7 linked regions of the Homo sapiens genome follow. The protein of the gene in region 5 purifies or fractionates together with the protein of the main gene of each other region. This does not show direct contact. Each region holds a gene or a part of one and is shown on either strand. Other genes may lie near its edges. The genes, in order: PLCG2, PHF6, PLEKHG3, KLHL12, UBXN7, METTL16 and WDR11.

Region 1 (3,500 bases), on a different chromosome or scaffold from region 5:
GAGAGCTAAGGCAGGACACAAAGGTTTAAATGGAAACTGAAGTGTGAGAAGAGCCCCTGACCTCAAGGACCCAACCGTTACGTGGGCTTTGAATAACCAAATCACCCTGACCTGGCAGTGAGTCCCCTCTCTCCCCACCCACTCTTATCCTAAAGAATATTTGAATAGCCAAAGCAGCCCAGCCTGGCTCCCACCTCTCACCCCTAATCTCCAACATCCTTCTCTATCCTGTCTAGAGATTTCTAACCATCTCTTTATTCCTGAGCAAAATTAAGAACAAAAAAAAAAAAAAAATGAAATAAACGAAAAACAAACTAAACCTTCAGAATCATCCATGGAGACTTTGGCAAATGGTTCCTCTGCATAGAAATGAGGATGAAAGGCAGGAAATGTCAGGTCTTGGCAGCTTCACGTTCAAACCCTAGAGAAGGTTCCTGCTGACTGTGTAGCTCTGGGTAGACTGCTTGACCTCTCTGTGCCTCAGTTTTAGCCTTTTTAAAATGGGAGTGTTCAGAAATGCCCCAGCAAAGCACCTGGGGTGACGGCCAGCACCTAGGAGGTGTCCTTGATTGCTGTTTATGCTTGTGGGTGGTCAGTGTCAGAGAGGTGCTTGGGCCCAAAACCTTGGAGGAATCCTTGCGTGGACTCTCTCACGACCACTTCCAACGCATCTCACCCTTTCACCGGCTCCTCCTAGGATCTCATACTTGAACTATTCTAATCCTGCTCTCCCCACTTCTTCCCTGACCTGCTAGGGTCAATTCTCAGATGCAGAGCCAGAAGGATCCTTTTAGAACATGAATCAAATCATGTCACTCCTCTGCTCAAAATCCCTTAGTCCCTCCCTGAGCCCTCACTCTGTACCATTCCCTCATTCTGCCTCCCAAATCCCCAGAAACACATTGCCTGCCCCCAAAATAGGACTTAGAGTGAAGGCGCTCCCCAGGCCCTGGAGCTGAACCACCAGGGACCCCCTTGCCAGCTAGGCTGCAAGAAGTCACTTAGATCCTCTGGGCTCATTTCCAGTCCCATAAAAGAAGGTAACAGTATCCACCATCTAAATGTTTTTGTAAGGCTTAAACAAGATAATGTATCTCAGGCCCTTAAAACAATGATACAAAGTCAGCACTCCTTAGATTAAGCTATTGTTAAAATTACCATTATTTGTTCTGTTTCTTATCTCCTCCTTTCCCTCCAAGTCCCTGGAGGTGCCTGGAGTTGTTACTCTGTAGCTCTCAAGGTTACAGAGTAGCACTAGAGAGACCCTCCCAGGATCCAAAGAAGGAGGAGTGAGAGGCTGGTGTTCAGCCAGGGCTGTCTGTGCTTCCAGCCGGGCTCAGCCTTCTGCCAAGCTGCTCTAAATCTGTGGCTCGGTTCCCTCATCTGTAAAATGGAGGTTAAATGCCCACAAGGGGCAGCTGGGAAGACAAAAAGCTACAATGTATGCACAGCCTGCAGCATTTACCAGGGTCTCAGTTAGCATTAATCAGCCATTGGGGAAGGCATTAATCAAATGTCAACTCTATGCCAGGCACTGAGGTGGGGACTAGGATGCAAATGAGGGGAATGGGGAGGGGCCCAGGATTTGCCCTTTGCCCCCACCTCCCTCTACTGCACACCCATACCAAAGGGACCTCCTCGGTCAGCCATGCCAGCAGCAGGAGATAATTACACCTGCTCTCTGCCCATGGGGAAACAGACTAATCAACTGAGAATTCTAATGTAGTTACAAGTGCAGCAGCAGAAGCATGCACTGGGGGCACGGCGGGCAGAGAGCAGCAAGAAGGAATCCTAAATTTAATCTGGAGTGTGGCTAGGCACTTAAAGGGCTCAGAAAAAGCTTTCAGGGGAAAAAAGCAGGCATCTGAACTCAATCTTTCAAAAAAGATGAAGCAGGAGGAACTGGCTTTAAGTTTAAGCAAAGGCTAGGAGGCAGAACAGAGTATGCTAAAAAAAAACCCTGCTGAGAGTTAATGTGCATCTTACCTTATCAGGAGAAACCCAAAATGACCTCCTGATCATTAGCCAGGACAAAGGGATGAACAAGGTGCCCCCATGGTCCATTTCATCCTTGTTAAGCAGCCATTTATTGGGCCCTTCCCCAGGTGCCAAGCACCTGTTGTGTCTGGTTCGTCTCATTTATCTCAATGGGAAATACGGCAGCGGAAAACTGAAATCCCAAGAGGTCACATTACTTGATCAAAGTCATGTAGACCAGCAGCAGCACAAAGATCAAAACCCTCACCTGAGTCCCAAGCCCCTAGTCCAGAATCCTGTGGCAGCATCTGGCCAGATATTAACTGATTTGCCAGTACTTGCCACTCTCAAAAGAGGTTAAGGGACTTATCCGAGGTCACACAGATAGAAAGTAGCAAAACGAGTTAATGGGTGCAGCACACCAACATGGCACGTGTATATATATGTAACAAACCTGCACGTTGTGCACATGTACCCTAAAACTTAAAGCATAATAATAATATAATAATAAAATTTTAAAAAAGTAGCTGAAACTGGATTTGACCCAGCTGCCAACCACAGAGCTCTTCACTATGTTGACTGTTCCCAGCCATGCATCCTGGAGTTCCCCACTCCCAGGTCTCTAGGCCATAGTCCACTGGAACATAAGTAGGAAACACAAGCCCCATTATAACACCTTCAATTAGACAGAAACCAGGACAAGGGACCAGGCTCCTCAGTTCTTTCCAGCCCTCACTCTGGGAGGGCCTTGGACTTAACCTTCCCCAGGGTCCCAGTTACTTCCAGCTTCGAAGCCCAGTGGATCAACTCAGCCATAAACACCAGACTTCCATGCTGCGTCTCACCAATTGCTTTGTAATAGCTGCTCACAGGTTGCCCTAAAGGAGCAGGGGTGGAATTTACACTCTCACCTGCAGTGGCTGACACCGTTCCTTTGAAAACACTGTATCCCCTCTGATGCTGCAGGGTGGGTGTAAGGTGCAGCAGTAATGTCCATTCAACTGTTGGAGGGGCCCTTACCACTCAAGTATTTGCCTGTGCCCCATTTTAACAGAATCGTTTTGTGGGATTTTGGATGAAATCCTGTACTGGCTTAACATGCACAGAGCACTGAAGAGAAAAACTTCCTTGATTTCTGGTTTGGGGTTCTTGTATCTCACGAAATGCCCTTCTAAATAAGCTTGTGAGATACAAGAACATGAATGAGCTTATGAGATGCAATTGGAAACAGATCTTCACGGCCAAAAGATCCCTGGAGTCCACCATTCAAATCCTGCCAGCACCCAGCTCAGGTCTCCAGCGTTCCACGCTTTATCAACTATGGCAGGGAGGTCTCCAAGACCTTGAGCCCAGGAGAGAGCACCAGCCACCACAGCAACTTCCATTTTGCTTCTGCTTTTTTTGGTTTTTTCAAAAAAAGAAAAAAAAAAGCCTTGAAATCCCTTTTTTGTTCCTGTTTCCCATTCTTAATGGGTAATTCTATAAAATGACTTATTTTGTAAATACAAATATGGCTGAGTTTG
Region 2 (3,979 bases), on a different chromosome or scaffold from region 5:
GCAACTTAATGGAAACTAGGTATGAAAGTTAATTATATGGGATCTGTTGTCAGGATACAATACACACTGATATATACATGTTGAAGTAATGGTATGCAGTAAGATTTTTTTTAATCCTATTATGTTTAGTTAAGAGCATGTTACTAAAATGCTGAGGATTTTGTAGGCTTGCATAGTAGTTGTTTTTTAACTAGCTGATTTTGTAACCATAAAAACAAGCTATCTGCTTTATCAATAAGTGTAGTTGTAATGTCAAATCAATAAGATATTCACACTCCTCAATAACATTATATTGATTGTGTTCCCCTCAAGCATCATATTTTACATTTTTTTATCATCTTTTAAACAGGTTCATGGGACAGAGTTAGAAAACTGGGAATGAATAAGACATCCATAACTACTATTCTTTTTTCACTGTTTTCTAAAATCAAAAAGGGTTTGTAACTTTTTACTGCCCAACTCTTAGATCCTTCATTGAACTGCCTAAAAATGTCTTGTTTGTTTTATGAGCCCTCACTAGAAGGCTGAGTTTGACATGTTGATATTACGTAGCTATAGTTTGCAGTTTCTGGGAAGCAATTGAAACACTATTAACCCTGTGTATAGTGTCAACAGTTAAAGCAGACGAAACGAAGTAAGCTATATTTCTGGACTGAACAAAGCTCTGCTGTTTAGAGCATTTAAGTTTGTTTAGTGGATCCATACTCAAAGGAAAGCATAAGCAAATTTTCCTTTACAATGCAAACATGCCACTGGTGGCAGCACATGGTAATTTGTGGATTTTTTTTTCATACTCAAGTAATGGAGGCTAGAAATGAAGAGAACCTTCTTTTTCTCTTGACTTTGACAGCACATGCTAAAAATCTCTTCCAAGAAGTATGCTAAAGCTTTTCATTTGGTTCCTGTTAAAGTTGTTCTCACTGACCAGCATGGACTCAGGCAACTGGTAATGATAAGCTATGAGCTCCAGTGCTTTTGCCAAAATTCTCTTGACAGCACACCTCCTCTCTTTCCATGTTATACAAAGGACTTCTGGCAAAATGATTGAGTCCTTCAAGTTTAAACTAACATTTGGCAACAGCAAATTAAACGTTTTTAAGATGTAAAGAAAGGGTTACCGCTTGCTAAGGACTTCAGACACCATGTCCGAAACCTGTTCCTCTCAAGTGCCCTGTTGTGTGGAACACTTCACATATTGGCGCACAGTACGTAAGGAGGTCTCATGTGCTGTAGGAGTAAAAAAGTCTTTGCATAAAACAGTATTTATTTTTACTTTTGTGACCACTATTTTAGAAACTTTATTTAATATTTTAATGTTTTCAGTCATTGCTTTGGTTATCTATAAAATAGGCTTTTGTGCCCTACTTTTCTTCTTGTAGGGCTTGGTGGTGTTTTATCGATTGTCAGAATTGTTTTTGAAAGCCTAAGAACCCAGCTTTTTAGAAAGGATTTTCACACTGGCATTTCTAGGTAGTGATATTTTCTTCCACTTACCTGCTGAAGCACATTTATGCATTTCTTTATGGCAAAACCAAATAACTTTAGTTGTGGTCTGCCTGATACTACCATAGCACCTCAGTACCAAGGGGAGGGATTTTGACTAGTTGAATTATTAAGCCACCACAATAAAGCAGATTTTTAAATAAGAAATAATAATGTTAACTTGACTGTACATTGAGATATTCTGCAGCTGATAGAGCAGCATTTTAAAAATGTAACAGGTGGAAAATTACACTGTGCTTAATGACTGATTTTTTTTTAAACTGCGAGTCCCTTAAGATCACGTTTGTCAAGTGTGTATTCACACATTTACTTAAATCAAGGGACTCAATGCTTGCTTTTATTTTAACCATCTTTTACTATTTTTAGAAGGAAACTAGCTTTAGTAGTGGGTTGCCCTGTATGTTTTCTCTTTTTGCTCTTAATATGCCATTGGGTTTTTGTGTGTATGTGATTTTCAAAATTCATGACTTGAAGTGCAAGGACAGATCTAGATGTTTGTTTACCAAGCTATGTGACTTCTCCCAAAGGATCTGTACTTTCTTTCCTTACAACAGCTTGAAAATCATTATTTTAAAATCCTTAAATCACTGTGTCTAGATCATTTTTTACATTGTGTGCCATAGACTTACCCATGGGACAACAGAGCTCCTTCATTTTTGGACAACTACTGTAATCATTTTTTTTTTAGGAAAAATGGAAGGTGCCGGGGGTAATCATGGCCAGTCAATAATTATATAAAGGAGTTCAAATACTATAGCTGTCAGTTGATGAATTTGTTATGTAGTAAAATGTATGACTTTGTATGGGTTTCTTCAGCCCTTTTTCTGCCACTAGCAACCAGAATAGCACTTTACCTTTTGGTTGGCTAGATAAGTGGCTGACTACCTGTTTTTCTCACTGTGGTGTGATTGGCTAAACAATCTCGCATTAAAAATTCAAATGTAAATTGAATTCACATGAAAAATCATGTTTGGTTGTAAACCTCCAATGTTTTGATTCTCTAATCATGTTTTCGTCACATGCTGAGTAAAAGTGCCTTACAATGTAAAAATTGTACAGTACTTATGTTCCCAAGTAGCATCATCATCTTCTGGGTAGTAATTACATTGTGGTATTAATATTTAGAAAAATGGACCTCAGCAGTGTATTTACTGTACATCTCTTAAGTCCTTAACTGTAGTTTTAATAAGCATGACATTATTTGATAAGTATATAACATTTACATCATTTCAAAAAATACTGCCGTTACTGTCTTTTATGCATATTTTAGCCTGAAATTTTGAAGCGTCTTTTTTCTTTCTTTTTTCTTTTTTTGTTTTGTTTTTTGTTATTGATATTAAACAGTGTAATCTTTGCAAGCGTATATTGAAGATTATTCTGGAGCATTTATTGCCTTACCAGAAATGTTAGTAGGAAATGTTCTTTAGAGTAGAAAGATAGACTTGAGTTTCTATACTTTTAAGAAGAGCTCTTTGTTCCTGGGGGAGGGGGGCAGGGGGTGAATTTTACTTTCATCTCAAGTTATTAAAAACCCACAACTGAAGTAAATTTTATTTCAAGAATCAGCAGTTTTAGAATTTCAGATAGTACTTGCTCAGAAGTACATGCTACTCAAGATATTAAGAGATAACAAGATCTGTAGATCTGCTATTGAATCAGAATCTGTGTACTTGAACAAATGTGTGAATCTCAAATATCTCAAAGCAAAAGAAAAAGTGTTCTAGAGTGTTGTTGCTTTTTTAAAAAAAGCGCTGAAGTTAGACCAAGGTATACAGTTTTGTTCTAACAGACATTTAGGTTAATTGTAAAGATAAGGAATGCATTATGGGTCAAAAATCAAACATTCCTCTCATGTTATGTATATTTTGTTCCTGTTATATTGGCTTTATTTTCAAAATTGTAGTTTGTAGTATTAGTTTCCTTTTATTGGTATTCTTGCATATACTATTCATTCAATAAATGACTTATGACTTTCATATTTGTTTGTCTTTTTTGTGAAAGTGTATACTGAAGCTTATTTGATAACAGCAATAGTATTGTGTTCCTTTTAGTCTTGCTTTATTTCAGAGTAAAATGCCTTAATAACTTTTCATTAAACAAGTATGGGAGGAAAAAAAGTGTGAATTTGAATTCAGTTCAAAGTTTCACAATATAAAAGTTTTATCATGGAGAGAAACTGCAATCTTGTAAGTACAATCGAACTGCATTACATCTTGGTTTTTTTATTACATGGTTCAGATGCCCATCGTTTAAATCAGATCCTCTGAAACCTAGTTAGAAGGTTATTTTGAAAATAAACCAAAACTCCTAGTACTATTTATCAGATTGGCAATATGGGTGCAGGATTAATATCCTTGTCATAAAGGGATTTTACCTTATATCTTTAAATGTACTCCCATTACCATGGACAGTGTGCTTCTAGTACAGTGCTCATATATTGAGGTTTGTCACATCCAGGGCAGAAATCAAGTTGTAA
Region 3 (3,500 bases), on a different chromosome or scaffold from region 5:
TAGGGCTTTCAGGCACAGGCTCTCCCACTGGGCCCATGGGAACAGAGATTCCCCACCTCCCAGGACTCTCAGCCCTGCATGAAGCCTGTTTGGCCTAGAGTATATGGTTTGGTGAGCAGACCACCCCTTTCTATGAAGTAGAGAAAGGCTCCCCTTTGGGCAGATGCAGTCCCATGTCAAGGGCACGCAGCTAGTGGAAATGAACCAGGTATTAGGCTCCTTTCGTTAGGCCACCTTGTATGGGTTATAAGGCCCTGTCCCTGCCAGCATGCCAGACATTGAAATCACACCTGTGGTCACCTGGGCAAAGGGTAGAGAACTGATATCTGTTGGACACCTCCTCTGTAACTGATGTGTTATTTCTTCCTACTCTTCCCCACAATGGCTCTAGAAGGAAAAGGGCACTGAGTGGTTGATGGCGTGCCTAACACTGAGCAGCTTCTGAGGCGCGGGGCTGAGATCAGACCTGGGGCTGGGACTCAGAGGCCCACTCTCCTCCTCCTGCTGCCCTATGCTGTCTGTGGGTTGTAGGAAGCAGCATCCTTTACTTTCCCAAAGTTATAAGGGAAAGATCGTGAGCTACAGCCTGGACCCCATGTTGGACCCCACAGCCAGGACTGAGAAGCCTGGATGATACTGGACAGGAATGTAGCATGATGTCTTAGCTTGAGCTGCTGTAACAAAATCCCTTACTGCTACGTGGGTAGCTTAGTTATTGCTCACAGTTTTGGAGGCTGGAAATTCTAAGGTCAAGATGCCAGCAGACCCTGGGGAGGGCTTGCCCTCTGCTTCGTAGATGGTGGCTTCTTGCTGTGTCCTCACATGGCAAAGGGGCAAGGAAGCTCCCTTGATCCTCATTTGTAAGGGATCTGACCCCACTCATGAGGATGGAGCCCTTGTGACCTAATTTCCCAAAGGCCCCCCCTCTCATTCCCATCACACTGGGTGTTAGCCTCCACATGGCAATTTTAGAGATACACAGACATTCAGAGCAGAGCAAATTGGGGTGTCAAATAATAATACAATGAGAACCACCCATTACAAAGTTTAAAAGAAGCAGATGAAATTAATTTTAGTAGTATATTTTATTTAACCCAATGTATACAGAGTATTATTCTAACATGTAATCAACATAAAAAGTTACTGATATGTTTTATCCCTTTTTTTATACAGAGTCTTTGCAATCTGGTGTGTATTTTATCCCAAGAGCAGGTTTCCATCTGGCCTAACCCCATTTCGGGTGCTCAGAAAGCCACAGTGGCTGGTGGCTCCCATGTTGAACAGTGCAAGTCTAGATCATGGGTCTTGCTCTGCAGATTCTGAACTAGAACAGAAGGAATTATGTCCGATCTTATAATTAGTGTTTGCTCTTATCTCCTTAAAGACTGCTCTGGAAAGCCGCGTATGTCATCAGTTCTGTGGTTCAAATTACTTTCAAGGTGGTCAAGAGGGAATTCTCAAGTTTGCTTTCTTCCTTGCCCATTTCCTGGGCATATGCAGTTGTGCTGGGCCCACAGGTACTGGGAGGAGCCACATTCCTGGTCCTCATCCTCTGACGAGATTCCAGCATGTGGCTGTGTTGCTCTCTAGACCCTAATCCACATGGGAGGCCCTGTCCCCTGAGGAAAATGAAATGGCCTCTCATGTTGTGCAGGTCTGGGTTTGAACCCTAGAACCTCCAAGTGAGGAGCCTCTAGGGCTTTGGGGAGCTGCCTCACCATCAGCCATGCTGGTTCCATGACACTGTGAGAACCAGCCCCTGGGAACCTGGGGCCATGCCCAACCCACTGTTGTGTGTTCCCACCTTGTCCCTGTAGCTCCTAGGCTGGCTGCCATCAAGGTGTTGCCATCCTGACCCATCTGCATTCTTACTGTTTTCCTTGGTTTTGAGGACATGGGCCCAGCACCCCCACTGTACGGTGACTAAAGGACACAGTCATGTTCCTCTAAGGACCCATCACCTACTCCTAAGTCGTGCTCATTCTGATTGCCTTGAGTCCTAAACTACAGGTCCCTGTCATTGGGCCTTGAGCAGGCCATGCTGTCCCCTTGTTCCCCGGATCCCATGAAGGAGGCTTTTTACTCATGTGAGCCTTTTCTGCTATGTTTCAGGTTGAGCCGGACCCTGAGGCTGGGAGTGAGCAAGAGGTATTTTCTGCTGTGGAAGGGCCCAGTGCCGAGGAGACGCCTTCAGACACAGAATCTCCAGAAGTCCTGGAGACACAGCTTGATGCCCACCAGGGCCTTCTGGGGATGGACCCCCCAGGTGACATGGTGGACTTCGTGGCAGCTGAGAGCACTGAGGACCTTAAGGCCCTGAGCAGCGAGGAGGAAGAAGAAATGGGAGGTGCCGCCCAGGAGCCTGAGAGCCTTCTGCCACCCTCTGTGCTGGACCAGGCCAGCGTCATTGCGGAGCGATTTGTCAGCAGCTTCTCTCGGCGGAGCAGCGTGGCACAGGAGGACAGCAAGTCCAGTGGCTTTGGGAGCCCGCGGCTGGTCAGCCGGAGCAGCAGCGTGCTCAGCCTGGAGGGCAGCGAGAAGGGCCTGGCCCGGCATGGCAGTGCCACAGACTCCCTCAGCTGTCAGCTCTCCCCAGAAGTGGACATCAGTGTGGGGGTGGCCACAGAGGACAGCCCTTCTGTCAATGGGATGGAGCCCCCAAGCCCAGGCTGCCCAGTGGAGCCTGACCGGTCTTCCTGCAAGAAGAAGGAATCAGCACTCTCCACCCGAGACCGGCTGTTGCTAGACAAGATTAAGAGCTATTATGAAAATGCAGAACACCATGATGCAGGCTTCAGCGTCCGTCGCCGGGAGAGCCTCTCCTACATCCCCAAAGGACTGGTAAGAAACTCCATCTCCAGGTTCAACAGCCTTCCCCGGCCAGACCCAGAGCCAGTACCTCCAGTGGGGAGCAAGAGACAGGTGGGCTCCCGGCCGACTTCGTGGGCCCTGTTTGAGCTCCCAGGACCAAGCCAGGCAGTCAAAGGGGACCCACCTCCCATCTCAGATGCTGAGTTCCGCCCATCTTCAGAAATTGTGAAGATCTGGGAGGGAATGGAGTCTTCCGGAGGGAGCCCTGGGAAGGGGCCAGGCCAGGGCCAGGCCAATGGCTTTGACCTGCATGAGCCACTCTTCATCCTGGAGGAGCATGAGCTGGGAGCCATCACAGAGGAGTCGGCCACTGCCTCCCCGGAAAGCTCCTCTCCCACTGAGGGGCGCAGCCCGGCCCACCTGGCCCGGGAGCTGAAAGAGCTGGTGAAGGAGCTGAGCAGCAGTACCCAGGGGGAGCTGGTGGCCCCACTGCACCCCCGCATCGTGCAGCTCTCCCACGTAATGGACAGCCACGTGAGCGAGCGCGTCAAGAACAAGGTCTACCAGCTGGCCCGCCAGTACAGCCTCCGGATCAAGAGCAACAAGCCAGTGATGGCCAGGCCACCACTGCAGTGGGAAAAGGTGGCCCCTGAGAGGGATGGGAAGAGCCCCACTGTGCCCTGTCTACA
Region 4 (3,500 bases), on a different chromosome or scaffold from region 5:
GACAGGGTCTCCCTCTGTTGCCTAGGCTAGAGTGCAGTGGTGCGATCATGGCTCACTGCAGCCTCAAACTCCCAGGCTCCAGAGATCCTCCCACCTCAGCCTCTCAAGTAGCTGGGACCACAGGTGCTCACCACCATGCCAGGCTAATTTTATTTTTTTGTAGAGACAGGGTTTTGCCATGTTGCCCAGGCTAGTATCAAACTCCTGGACACAAGCAGTTCTGCCTCAGCCTCCCAAAGTGCTGGGATTACAGGCATAGGCCACTGCACCTGGCCTACTATTCCTTTAACATCCAGTTCATGTGTCCCTCCCTTCCAACCGCTGCATCCTCACAAGACAGTTATGATTTGGCTCCTGCTTCTGTAGATCCTCACTTCCAAACTTTTGTCTCTTCATTTCTGATCCACTCCTGAGCAAAGGTTTATTCTTCTTTCTTCTATGTAATGTCCTTACTTTGTATAGGCTCACTATTCTCATGATCCTCTTTATAACATTTTTTTTGTCTATATCTCTGTCTCTACTAGCAGGTTGTGAATTTTCTGAAAGCAAGAACTATATTTACCCACTTGGGGATCTGTAGCACCTGGCATAGTTAAGTGCTACATAGTAGATATTCTCAATAAATGTTTGTGAAATGAGTGAACGGGTAATAGAGAAGTGGTCTACAGATACCTACTTTACTTCCAATTTCTGCTTATTCTATACTCTGTTGAATAGTGATTCTTACCCACTGGGATCATATATCTAATTGAAGAAAGTGGCAAACTCCCTCTCCATAAAAATGCAAATAAATTTGGTACAGGAGGGGTTAATGAAATCTTTGAGCCAAAATGCACACTTAATTATGAAGCCCTGATGGTAAGTAACTGCATCCTATTTGCAAGTTTTGTAATTGCCCAATCTTGAAGAAACCATAACATCAAGACAAATCCGTACCTGAATTTCGTCGCACTTGATTAGCTTTTCCACCTCTCCTTGACTCAGAAGAATGAACTCTTCATGCTGTACCACTTCAGGAAAATGCTTCTGGCTAAAAACCTCAGCTGCTTGCATCAGGTCAACACAATTGTGGGTTTCAGCAAAATCCCTAATACCCAGGCAATTAGAAGGGTCCAACTGACTTTCTAAGAACTCACAGCAGGCTTGTTTCACACCTAGGACAGACACAGGCAGCAAACACTTTAGAATAGTTGGACAGGTGTGATCTAGGATATATTCTTGTATCTCAGCATCTTCTCTACATGTTATCAGATGAACCCTTGTTTCAACACCTAAGAAACAGATTAGAAATTCTATGCTTAAGGAACTTAAACTCTATTTCTGGCTTATGTACTGTGCCACTTTCAGCAAGACCTTTACACCTGTCTCTGCTTAATCTTTAAAATGAGTATTGCAAGATGAATCACATCCAGAGACCTGGCACAATTCAACAAAAATGCCTATAAAACTCTTGGGAATCAAACTATAAAACCAATTGCGAATTCAGCATAATGTATCCATTTTCTACTCTACATGAAAACTTACTAAAAGACTAGAGTGAAAGAAAAGGAGAAGATAGTAATAACAAATCTCATATTTATCTAATTGAAAAGTTCAGAGTATTTTAATGTTATGGCTATGCACTAATGCAAAAGCTTCACACTGTTTAAATCATGTATTAAAAACTAAAAGTGTGTCAATTATGTATATATAAAAACTGAAAACATAACTGAATGTTAAAAAAGAAAAACTGGGGACCAGGAACGGTGGCTCGTGCCTATAATTCCAGCATTCTGGGAGGCAAGGTGGGAGGATCACTCGAGCCCACGAGCTTGAGACCAGCCTGAGCAACATAGAGAGAACTCATCTCCACACAAAAAAATTTTGTTTTAATTAGCTGGGTGTGGTGGCATGCACCTGTGGTCCCAGCTACTCAGGAGGCTGAGGTGTGAGAATTGCTTGAGCCCAAGAATTCAAGGATACAGTGAGCTGTGATTGCACCACTGTGCTCTAATCTGGGTGACAGAGTGAGACTCTGTCTCAAAAACAAAACAAAAAACCTGGGAATTGTAAGGGAAAACAAACCACCTGTAATCCTGTGAAAATATCATACTTTAATATTTTGTGCATCAATTTAAATTTCATGTATCTTAATGAAATACTACCACTTAATGGCCAGATAGATAAAGAGTATCCATGTAGGCTATGTATAGTATCACTTTTTTATTATATTTCCTTATAGGTGTGTTACATACATGTATGTAAGAAAACACATAATTTCTCCTTCCTCCATTTTTTTTTTAAAACAGAAAAGGTGCAAATGCTCTCTTTTATAGAGCCAAATACTCATATCTGGAGAAGTTCCTTTATAGTGCTATTGACATCTGATCTCTTATTGCTCAATGAGACAAAAGCCATGGCCAGCAAACATGAACATCCATAGTTTGTCTCCAAAATGTTCATGATTAAGTTTACACTATTAATTTTCAACCTTTCCAGGGCTATTTTGACATAAACAATAGCAAGTTTTAATGTCTGTACCTTTCAACTGAAGCAGACAGGCTGCAGGAAGCAGTTCTTGTACATTCTCCACTGTCACATGTACTGTTTCTGTGTACACAAAGTCCAATAAAATTTCCATGGTAGAGGCAGTCAAACCTTGGATGTCAACATAAGGTTTCCCCTTCTCTGAGAGCTGAAAATTCAAAAGGTATAAAAGAATGATGGTTATAATTCCACAAGATAAAGGCAGAATCTCATATCTAAGAGCTTAGAGATGTTAATAATATTAATTGAACATTTATCTTTAAAAATTACAGGCCAGGCGTGGTGGCTCATGCCTGTAATCCCAGCACTTTGAGAGGCTAAGGCAGGCAAATCACCTGAGGTCAGGAATTCAAGACCAGCCTGGCCAACACAGTGAAACCCCGTCTCCACTAGAAATACAAAAATTAGTTGGGCATGGTGGCACATGCCTGTAGTCCCAGCTACTCAGGAGGCTGAGGCAGGAGAATTGCTTCAACCCAGGAGGCGAAGGTTGCAGAGAGCCAAGATTGTGCCACTCCACTCCAGCCTGGGCACCAGAGTGAGACTCCATTTCAAAAAAATAAAAAAGAAAGAAAATAAAAAAATAAAATTATGCTCTATTTTGTTGGATTTTTTTTTTTTTTTTTTTTTTTTTGAGACGGAATCTTGCACTGTTTCCCAGGCTGGAGTGCAGTGGTGCCATCTCGGCTCACTGCAAGCTCCACCTCCTGGGTTCATGCCATTCTCCTGGCTCAGCCTCCCGAGTAGTTTGGACTACAGGCGCCCGCCACCACGCCCGGCTAATTTTTTGTACTTTTAGTAGAGACGGGGTTTCACCGTGTTAGCCAGGATGGTCTCGATCTCCTCACCTCGTGATCCGCCTGCCTCAGCCTCCCAAAGTGCTGGGATTACAGGCGTGAGCCACCGCGCCCGGCCAATTTTGTTGGATTTTAATAAAGCAAATATGGCACATTATCTGTAGCTTTCCAAATGAA
Region 5 (3,500 bases):
TGAGACCATCCTGGCCAACATGGTGAAACCCCGTCTCTACTAAAATACAAAAATTAGCCGGGCCTGGTGACAGGCGCTTGTAGTCCCAGCTACTCGGGAGACTGAAGCAGGGGAATCGCTTGAACCCGGGAGGCAGAGACTGCAGTGAGCTGAGATCGTGCCACTGCACTCCTGCCCAGCGACAATGCAAGACTTGTCTCAAAAAAAAAAAAAAAAAAAAAAGATTATGGCTCCACATGGTGGCTCGCACCTATAACCCTAGCACTTTGTAGGGCAGAGGCAGAGGACAGCTTGAGGCCAGGAGTTTGAGACCAGCCTGGGCATCTCCACGAGAAGTTTTTTTGTTTTTTTTTGTTTGTTTGTTTGTTTTTAAATTAGCCAGGTTTAATGGTGTGCACCTATAGTCCCAGCAACTCAGGAGACTGAGGTGGGAAGATCCCTTGAGCCTATAGGGGTTAGAGCCTGCAGTGAGCTATGACTGCACCACTGTGTTCCGGCCTGGGTGACAGAGCAAGACCCTGTCCATTTATTTAAAAAAAAAAAGAAAAAAGAAAAGAAAAGAAAGAAAGAAAAAAAGATTATAAGCTCAAGAGTCCAGCACAGTGCTAAGCAAAGAGCTGCTCGATCAATATTTGTTGAATAAAATACAAGGAATTTTACCATTAAAGTTACATTAAATTTAGGGGCCTGTAAAATATAAACAGGCAAATTAATAACATTAATAGCATATCTTACAGTAGGGGAAAAAATTAAGCTCCTTCATAAGTTTTTATTTTCTATAACTTTTCACAAAATAAAAAATAAAAAAATTGAGCCGGCACGGTGATTCATGCCTATAATCCCAGCACTTTGGGAAGCCAAGGGAAGCAGATGGCTTGGGCCCAGGAGTTCGAGACGAGCCTGGGCAATATGGCAGGACCCCATCTCTACAAAAAAAAAAAAAAAAAAAAAATTATATGGGCATAGTGGTGCATGTTTGTGGTCCCAACTACTCAAGAAACTGAGGTGGAAGGATCATTTGAGCCCAGGAGGTCAAGGCTGAGCCATGTTCATGCCACTGCATTGCAGCCTGGGTGACAGAGCAAAACCCTGTCTCACAGTGGGGGAAAAATGATACAAGGTCTGTAACCTTATCTCATTAGCTGGGAAGACTAAAGTGACATGTCTAAGAACACAGAGTTAAAAAGTATCAAACTCAAGCTAAAATCTAAGTCTTAGCCAAATGCTTCCAATTACCTCAAGATCTTCTATACCTGCACTGTCTAATACAGCAACCACTACCCACAAGTGGCTACTGAAGCACCTGAAATCTTGCTACTCCAAATGGAGAAGGGGTGTAAGTATAAAATACAAACCATATCTTGAAGACTCAACACCAAATAAATGCAGATCATCTCATTATTTTTGTATTAGTTATATAGATATATTGATTTAACCAAATACATTATTACAGTTAATTTCATCTATTTTGATTAATCTTTTTTAATGTGGCTACTGGAAAAATTTAAATTATGTGTACAGCTTACAATATATTTCTACTGAACAGTACAGTTTGTTTGTTTTGTTTTGTTTGAGATGGAGTCTAGCTCTATTGTTCAGGCTGGAGTGTAATGGTGTGATCTTGGCTCACTGCAGTCTCCGCTACCCGGGTTCAAGTGATTCTCCTGCCTCAGCCTCCCGAGTAGCTGGGATTACAGGTGCCTGCTGCCACACCTGGCTGATTTTTTGTATTTTTAGGAGAGACAGGGTTTCACCATGTTGGCCAGGCTGGTCTCAAACTCCTGACCTCAGGTGATCCGCCGGCCTCAGCCTCCCAAAGTGCTGGGATTATAGGCGTGAGCTACTGCCCCCAGCCGGCTTTACCTTTTTTTAAATGTCTTAATTCATTATAACCCAATTCCTTTCCCTCAACAACCCACACTACAAAAGTAAAATTCTACAAAACTTCTGATTAACTCTCCTTCTCACCTGCCAGAAAATGAAATGTTCCCGGATAATATTCTTCACAGCTTCGTTGCTCCACACATCGCGGTTGAGGCACTGACATGCAAAGTCTTGAACATTTTGAATGTTTATCATCAGCCACTTATTTTGCATCTGGCCACACTCTTTGGCCTGCAAGAGTAAAGTTACACATTTGTTAGAAATAATTTCTACTTAGTGACAGATGTTTCCGTAGTTGTTCAGAGGTTGTTGTCTTTCATTAAAAATACTAAGTTTTTGCCAGATACGACATCTAGAGTTTTCAGCATTTATACATTCTATATATTTACTTCGCATATGCATTTATAGCTATACTGTCCATTTCAAGCACTGCTCAAATTTAAATGAACTCATTTCTCTTTTATCCAGTTATTTGTTATAATAGCTGATTCTCTCTCTCTCTCTCTCTCTCTCTCCTTTCTTTCTTTCTTTCTTTTTTTTTTTTTTTTGAGACAGAGTCTAACTCTATTGCCCAGGCTAGAGTACAGTGGGGCAGTCTCGGCTCACTGCAACCTCCACCTCCTGAGTTCAAGTGATTCTCCCGCCGCAGCCTCCCAAGTAGTTGGGATTAAAGGCGTGCCCCAACACGCCTGGCTGATTTTTGTATTTTTAGTAGAGATGGGGTATCAACATGTTGGCCAGGCTGGTCTCGAACTTCTGACCTCAAATGACCCGTCCACCTTGGCCTCCCAAAGTGCTGGAATTACAGGTGTGACTCATCATGACCGGTAATGGCTGAATTTTTAATGTATGTTTAAACATCTTTACCTGAAAAGGATTCAACAAACTTAAGATCAACAAGTCACGTAATTTTATTCTCTTGCAACCTCCATCAACAATTTTTTTTTTTTTTGAGACGAGCTTTGCTCTTGTTGCCTAAGTCGGAGAACAATGGCACGATCTCGGCTCACTACAACCTCCACCTACTAGGTTCAAGTGATTCTTCTGCCTTAGCCTACCGAGTAGCTGGGATTACAGGTGTGTGCCACCATGCCTGACTAATTTTTTATATATTTTTAGTAAAGAGACGGGGTTTCACCATGTTGGCCAGGCTGGTCTCAAACTCCTGACCTCAGGTGACGCACCCATCTCAGCCTCCCAAAGTGCTGGGATTATAGGCGTGAGCCACCGCGCCCAGCCAATTATACTTCTTTTTAATGAATGCAATTGGTGTGTATATTTTACTTTGTTTTCTTCAACATCATTTCTGGAACATTTTTAAACATCATATTAATCTCAGTTATTAGGCATATATGCTGTTTTGGAGAATCACCCTAAACATTTTAGTAAAAACTGCTGAGAGTTTTTTCTCTTAAGAGTTGTCTTCCTAGGAGTAGATTCCAAAAATTGGGATTACAAGGTCAAAGAATGTTTGAGAATGATCCCCAAACAACTCTACGATTCGTACAACAGATATCGATACATCAATCGTTAGTGCGTACTTTTTGCCTGTCAGTCCCTTGTCAGCATAAAGACCCATGAAATGCTGCTGAGTGGAAAACAATGGCAGAAAAGCA
Region 6 (3,500 bases), on a different chromosome or scaffold from region 5:
TTGGATTTCAATTTTTTTTTCAGATTTTGAAATATGTGCACTATATTTACAGGCTGAACATCCCTAACCCCCAAATCTGGAACGCTCCAACGCACATTGCCTTTGAGCAACACATCAGTGCTCAAAGGTTGCAGATTTTGAAGCATTTCGGATTTTCGGATTAAGGATGCTCAACCTGTATCTGTAGCCAGCTTCTTTTGTACAACAACAAATACCCAGTAGAAAAGTTTACAAAGAATTTGATCTCGCAAAACTTATGAAAACTGTTTAGCCAAAAAAGAATTTAAAATGATATACCTATGTCAATTCCTCTTCGGAGAGTACTTTTGTCAGAATCCTGGTGACCGATCAGATCTTCTACCCAGTGAATATAGTTGAGTCTCAAGGGAACTGTGGGAATTAGTCTCTCCAATGGAATATCAATAGAAAGTCCAAAATCTTCCCTTAGGAGAGTACACGTCAGAGCTCTGACTGCTTCGGGGTCTTTAAAATTAAGGCTGAGGAATAAAGAAAAGGAAGTAAAACTGATTAGTAAGATTCACTATGTTGTACAAGCTCTACGGCAAACAGGCAGAACCAAATACCCATCCGAACCTCCCAGGGAGATCACACACAGTTACACAGAGCACTCATCCCAGTGGCACATACACGAGTGTTTCACACAGTCACAGCTTATGAAAATCAGTACAATCCTCCACCAAAAACACTGCATATCCGTATATGGAGCACAGAGATTAAATGACTCGGCTCAAATTCCTGTCTCGTCGTCTCCTCACTGTGTGACTTTGAACAAGTCATTTACCTCTATGAAAGTGTTTCCTCTGCTGTGAAATGAGGACAGTAATACCAATATCACAATGCTACTGTGAGATGACCTGAGAAGTACTTAGCATAATGTCTGGTGCATAATAACTATTTTACAAATGCTAGCTGTTTTTACTCTTACCATTAACATCATCTGACATTAGCATTCCTTGAAAATCCTACTTAAAAGTGGAAAGAAGTCAGTATAAAAATGTTTAATATGAACACAGGATAAGATACTTAAATATGACAAATATTACAGACATCAAATTTTAAATGTAACTTTTTAAAGCTTTATGAAGTATAATTCACATACTATAAAATTCACCTGTAAGTGTACAATTGAATAGTTTCTAGTATATTAACAGAGTCGTGCAACCATCACCAAAACCCACTTTTAGAACACTCCTATCACCCCAAAAAGCAGAACTCATGACCATTTGCATGTCTTTCCTCATTTCCAACGTTAGCCTGAGGCAACCATTGATGTACTTTCTGTCTTCATAGATTTGCCTTTTCTGGACACTTCAAGTAACTGAAATCATAATGAGGTCTTCTGGTCACTTAACACAAGTTTGTGAGGTTCATCCATTTTGTAACTTGTCAGTGTTTCACTTCTTTTTATGGGCGAATAATGTTCCATAGTAAGAATGACTACATTTTGTTTATCCATTCACCAGTTCCTGAACATCTGGGTTGTTTCCATCACGGTCATGATGGATTGTTGACCATCACGAACAATGCTGCTATGAACATTTACATACAAGTCTTTGTGTGGACATACGTTTTCGCTGCTCTTGGGTAGACAGTCAGGAATGGATCATAAGATATATTTGTATTTAACCTTTTAAGAAACTTGTACCAATATAACTATGTTGATGTCAAAATACTGCTAAACTGAAAATATTAAAAAAGAATATCAACAGACCTTATTTATAAACAGAGCAGGGTCTTTTTTGGTTTTTGTGGGTTTTGTTTTGTTTTGTTTTGTTTTTGAGCCAGGTCCTCACTGTCTCCCAGACTGGAATGCACGGTGTGATCATGGCTCACTGCAGCCTCACCCTCCCAGGCTCAAGTGACCCTCCTGCCTCGGCCCCACAAGTAGCTGGGACTACAGGTGCATACCACCACACTAAGCTTTTTTTTTTTTTTTTTTTCGTAGAGAAAAGGGCCCAGCCCCTTATGTTGCCTCAACTGGTCTTGAACTCCTGGGCCCATGTAATCCTCCCGCCTCAGCCTAAGTGTTGGGATTGCAGGCGTGAACCACTGCACCTGGCCAACAGAGCATTTTGAAGAAAGCAGAAAGTCAGTAGATGGGGTATGAAAGGGAGGAGTTTTGAAACTACTTAGAATTCTGGCCTCAAGGTGTCTGGTCAGGCAACAACACATCCTCAAACAGCTTCTGGTCTGTACTATCTCCTTTTCTGCTCCCCTGCCTGGTCATCAAATGACCAATCATTGGAAAAATTCAATGTCCATCGGGATGCTTGAGTGCCAAGACAGAAGGAAGAGTGCTGTTTCCACCCAGCAACCATGGAAACTTCAGGCAGGTACCATCAACCCAATCTCTCTCCACTCCCCACAGCAAAAATGTTCTAGTATGGAAGTTAGGAGATCTGGACTCCACTTTTGGCTCTGCAATCAATTTGCCATGGACGTAAGTCACTTCAGTTCTTAGGTCTCAGTTTCTCCACCTATAAAAGTAAAGGACTGGCCGGGCACGGTGGCTCACACCTGTAATCCTACCACTTTGGGAGGCTGAGGTGGGTGGATCACCTGAGGTTGGGAGTTCGAGACCAGCCTGACCAACATGGAGAAACCCCAACTCTACTAAAAATACAAAATCAGCCAGGCATGGTGGCGCATGCCTGTAATCCCAGCTACTCAGGAGGCTGAGGCAGGAGAATCGCTTGAACCCGGAAGGCAGAGGTTGCAGTGAGCCGAGACTGTGCCACTGCACTTCAGCCTAGGTGACAGAGAGAGACTCTGTCTCAAAAAAAAAAAAAAAAAGAAAAGAAAAGAAAAAACATACCTTTCACAGGAAAAGACCTTGCAAAAAGATGGATGATGGGCAGCATCAGATTTCATGAATATAGATTTGTTATCTATACAAAAATTGCATTCCATACCTGAATATAATGATTTCGTCTGACCTCTAAGAATGCTTCCAGACACTAACTTATAGGGAGGAAAATGGAAGGGATGAAGAATGAAGCTTTAATATAATCTACAGCAGACAGAAACAGGATGACTATAGTGGACCCTGAAGAGACACAGCCAGAGCCTGGAAGCAATGACGCTCCCATCGCTACGAGCATACCTAGAGTGCCAGACCTTGGTTTCCAAATAGCACTCCCCAAAGGAATCGGAGTTCCTTGGATAAATGGTTATTCCAGAATTGGAAAGGGAAGTACAAGATAAACCCGAAGCATTTTATTGTATTAGAAAACAGGACATGCTGAAAGGAAGATAGAAACAAATCAGAAGTACACTAGACCCTGCTTGATGGGGCTCCCTTTGGCCAAATCTGTGTCAATGTGAATGAAGAAGGCTAACAAAGGATTATAGACCATAGAATAAAATACATGAGTCCATCCTTAAATGTAGAAGTAATGAAAGAGTTAGATAATTACATTTGGCAATCGCCATGCTAATAATTGTTTCAATTAAGAATTATCAATGGATGCTAAAAATAA
Region 7 (3,331 bases), on a different chromosome or scaffold from region 5:
ACACATTTTCCCTGGAAACCTGCATACTGCATTAAGATACAAGCACTTTTCTAAGCCCTAGTTTGTTGAAAAAAGGAGGGAAGAATACTCACATCTCCAAACACAAGCTTTTTAAAATTAATACTTTAAAAAATTGTGAAATAGTTTAAATACACAAAAATCTACAGAGATATGACAAGTGCCCATGTACCCCTGTCCAGAGTTGACAAGTAATCTTTTGTCATATTTCCGTAATCTACCTCCCTTAGTTTTGAATAAATGAAATGCTCCACAATTAGTGATGGTTGTTCCTCTTCCAGATTTTCAGACGGGATGTCTCCACCTCACCATGCCTTCTGTCGCCTCTCCCCCTGCTCTCTGGGCCTCCTCTCAGTTGCTCTAGTCAAAGCTGAATGGACCCCAATTCTCTGAAGACTTTTAAATTCCCTTTTACTAGGTGCCTGTTAAGTCTGATCAGCATATTAGTAGGAAACTAGCATAGCTCCTAGACCGAATGAAGATGTAATGAATACGGACAGTTCCATTCTCCTTTGGGTTTTTTGACAAACCTGAAATGTATACTTCTCCTTTCACTTTACACATCGAGTACCATGACCTGCTAGAACCGCGAGAGAACATGAAGTGACTGCTCACGGGCAGGCCTGAGCAGCCCATGTGAACTCTCGGTTTACCTGTGAAGCGTCTCTGCCACGCTAAAAAAGCAGCCCAGAGAGAGGAGAACCAGGAGAGCCTTTGATTTCTGATTGACTTGTGGAGAACAAAGGTGGTCAACCCACCGCCTTAAAACATCGGCACACTCCTCAGGATTCAAACGGACCTGAGAAAGACGCCTGTGTTAACAACAAAAACATCCTGCACTCTATAAAGAAAAAATAATAATTCAGTTAAAGTGAGATCTGTTTCTATGAAATACAGGCTATGCTCTGCTTGACTAGCACACTGCCCTGAAGCTGCTGCATACTCTGAATAATGATAACGGTCTGTGCCTACGGGACCCAGGGCCTGGCTATACCTCTGGACTGTAGTTTCGGCTCAGACTCTGGGAGAAAGAGGAGGCAGCTGCTTTTACTTAATTGCTACCAATGCAAGATCCATTTTTAAATAAGTAATGCAATTTACACTCATAAAGAATAGGAAAAGGATAAAGGTTCCAAGACAGTATTTGCAAAGCAGCTTTGCAGGCCAAAAAATGTTTCTAAGTCATAAGTCCAAAGTTCAGGACTGAGCTTTCTATCCCGAATGTTGAGGGCACCTATTGAAACTTGGAACCACCTACTTTTGCCAGCCATGCAGCCCGATTCCACTCGCCGTATGTCTGCAGGTAGCGGCAGGCGTCTGCAGCCTTATCTATCAGGCAGAGCAACTGAACGCCCTCTGAAAGACAAAAGCGCATCCCCTTAAGTGACACTGCAGCTCCTTCTTTGAGAAGTCATTAAAAAGTTAAATCCCCATTTGACCTTATCTAGTCGTGCCCATTTTATACCTACTGAAGACATTCTTGATTTAAATTCTGAAACATAATATTAAGAGTTTTACTGTTATTACTCAAGTAACCAGGGTAGGAAGCACAATACAGTCTGGAGAATAAGTAGGGAGAGCATAGTTCTCTCACAGGTTTTATTGTTCTGATTTGCCTAGGATTGTTGGATTTATGCCTATTATCTCAGCAATTATTAACAGTGCCCCCTTTCACTCTGAAAAGTGTAAACAATTAATTCTGGTTTAGACAATTATATTCATCTGATTTATAGGTAGCAATAATTTTTCTATTTTTCTTCAGCATATGTAAAAGAGAAAGAAATGTCCCTACTAATCAGATACTTTGCTGGGAACAAGGTCTCATTTTTCAGAGAGATGACAAACATATCAAGTGTGCCTTACCTGCCAATTTGCCATTGGCAATCATATTCGTTGCCACCAACTTAATGGTGCTCTGAGAGGGGCCTGACGAGGTGACAGTAGTGACTAAACAGGCTTTCAGTGAATCACAGTAATAATGCTGGTTATCTGCACTTGTTTCCAACAGCAACTGCACAGCTCTGTCTGTCTAGTAAGAGAAACGGTTTTTCTAATTATGAGAACATTTTCCTCCAACATAACTTTTTAAAATTCATAAGGTAGAAAACTAAAGGAAAACACTCATTTTCAAAAAATGCAATTGAATATTTTGTTTACAAATACAAACATTAAACAGAGGTGCTACACTACTTTTTTGAGACAAACATAAAGCCAGAGGCTGGTGTATCTAGGTGCTCGAGTAATTGCCTATTTTAGCTTTGTACCAGTCAATTCAGACACAAAAACAAAACAAAACAAATAGCTGGGCTCCACTGGGCATTATGGAAGTCTAAATTACAAGCTGGTTAACCATATGTTTTTTCTCATGAGGTTTATTGGTATTATTTTGAAAGAAAGCCTAAACTGTCTACAGGGAAGGAGGTACATACAAGGGGAAAATATTATGAAATATATACATACAGATATATTGCTCTGAAATACGAATTAACTAGCAATTTAATGAAGCATGTAGAGTTATAAAAACTGACATACTTGACCCAAGAGCAGTAGCTGGTCTGTACATTTCCTTGTATGATCATAAGTTGACCGTTTCACTTCCTGCAGATTAACCCTTTCTAGCTGAAATTTCTAGAATTGGAAAAAAAAGAAAAATTAAGCCTGGATTATAAGAGTTTGGAATTATTTAAATTTTACTGTACTTAATAAGATCATTTTAATAAACTACTTTGACTTTTCAGGTTACTAGATAATCAACTTTACAGCACCCCAAACATTTAATAAGAATTTGAACAGCAAAAATGTTGATAGATATTATCACTTGGATGCATACCTGCCTGCCTACAGAAACTGACACTTAAGTAGAGCCGGATGAAAAACCTATGTGCACTGAAGGATTCTGCAGGAGGTTAAAGAAATTATCATGTGAACAGCAAATTCAAACCAAGTGTATAAAGTATTTGTTATTTATAGGAAATTAATGACAGAATTAAAATGAAGCCAAGTTAAAAATGTAAGACAAATTAAACAAGCCTGTTTAATAATAAAATTTTAATGTTTAGTAAACAACGCAGTAACTGTCTATGAGCTTTTCAAATCTTGATCAGGCTTTTTTTTTAATGCAAATGTACCGAGGGCTTCTTTCTTTTCTTTCTTTTTTTTTTTTTGGAGACAGAGTCTTGCTCTGTTGCCCAGGCTGGAATGCAGTGGCGTGATCTCAGCTCACTGCAACCTCCGCCTCCTGGGTTCAAGTGATTCTCCTCCCTCAGCCTCCTGAGTAGCTGGGACTACAGGCACGTGCCACCACACCCAGCTA

What was found.
Region 1: the proteins of UBXN7 (region 5) and PLCG2 purify together in Homo sapiens (affinity purification with mass spectrometry, with the first as the bait; one study listed by BioGRID). This does not show direct contact.
Region 2: the proteins of UBXN7 (region 5) and PHF6 purify together in Homo sapiens (affinity purification with mass spectrometry, with the first as the bait; one large-scale study listed by BioGRID). This does not show direct contact.
Region 3: the proteins of UBXN7 (region 5) and PLEKHG3 purify together in Homo sapiens (affinity purification with mass spectrometry; one large-scale study listed by BioGRID and IntAct). This does not show direct contact.
Region 4: the proteins of UBXN7 (region 5) and KLHL12 purify together in Homo sapiens (affinity purification with mass spectrometry; 2 studies listed by BioGRID and IntAct, with this or other methods). This does not show direct contact.
Region 6: the proteins of UBXN7 (region 5) and METTL16 purify together in Homo sapiens (affinity purification with mass spectrometry, with the first as the bait; one study listed by BioGRID). This does not show direct contact.
Region 7: the proteins of UBXN7 (region 5) and WDR11 purify together in Homo sapiens (affinity purification with mass spectrometry; 2 studies listed by BioGRID and IntAct, with this or other methods). This does not show direct contact.

The regions. Positions count from the first base shown.
Region 1 is NC_000016.10:81,782,291-81,785,790, reverse strand, and holds part of PLCG2 (1-phosphatidylinositol 4,5-bisphosphate phosphodiesterase gamma-2), read right to left. Parts: intron 1-3,500. UniProt on the Homo sapiens protein: The production of the second messenger molecules diacylglycerol (DAG) and inositol 1,4,5-trisphosphate (IP3) is mediated by activated phosphatidylinositol-specific phospholipase C enzymes. It is a crucial enzyme in transmembrane signaling.
Region 2 is NC_000023.11:134,425,312-134,429,290, forward strand, and holds the end of PHF6 (PHD finger protein 6), read left to right. Parts: coding exon 1-19; exon of another isoform or gene 20-349; 3' UTR 350-3,479; downstream 3,480-3,979.
Region 3 is NC_000014.9:64,738,924-64,742,423, forward strand, and holds part of PLEKHG3 (pleckstrin homology domain-containing family G member 3), read left to right. Parts: intron 1-2,112; coding exon 2,113-3,500. UniProt on the Homo sapiens protein: Plays a role in controlling cell polarity and cell motility by selectively binding newly polymerized actin and activating RAC1 and CDC42 to enhance local actin polymerization.
Region 4 is NC_000001.11:202,917,235-202,920,734, forward strand, and holds part of KLHL12 (kelch-like protein 12), read right to left. Parts: intron 2,675-3,500; coding exon 2,521-2,674; intron 1,155-2,520; coding exon 937-1,154; intron 1-936. UniProt on the Homo sapiens protein: Substrate-specific adapter of a BCR (BTB-CUL3-RBX1) E3 ubiquitin ligase complex that acts as a negative regulator of Wnt signaling pathway and ER-Golgi transport.
Region 5 is NC_000003.12:196,369,928-196,373,427, forward strand, and holds part of UBXN7 (UBX domain-containing protein 7), read right to left. Parts: intron 2,116-3,500; coding exon 1,969-2,115; intron 1-1,968. UniProt on the Homo sapiens protein: Ubiquitin-binding adapter that links a subset of NEDD8-associated cullin ring ligases (CRLs) to the segregase VCP/p97, to regulate turnover of their ubiquitination substrates.
Region 6 is NC_000017.11:2,477,389-2,480,888, forward strand, and holds part of METTL16 (RNA N(6)-adenosine-methyltransferase METTL16), read right to left. Parts: intron 498-3,500; coding exon 298-497; intron 1-297. UniProt on the Homo sapiens protein: RNA N6-methyltransferase that methylates adenosine residues at the N(6) position of a subset of RNAs and is involved in S-adenosyl-L-methionine homeostasis by regulating expression of MAT2A transcripts.
Region 7 is NC_000010.11:120,903,362-120,906,692, reverse strand, and holds part of WDR11 (WD repeat-containing protein 11), read right to left. Parts: intron 2,647-3,331; coding exon 2,551-2,646; intron 2,048-2,550; coding exon 1,882-2,047; intron 1,375-1,881; coding exon 1,277-1,374; intron 818-1,276; coding exon 672-817; intron 1-671. UniProt on the Homo sapiens protein: Involved in the Hedgehog (Hh) signaling pathway, is essential for normal ciliogenesis.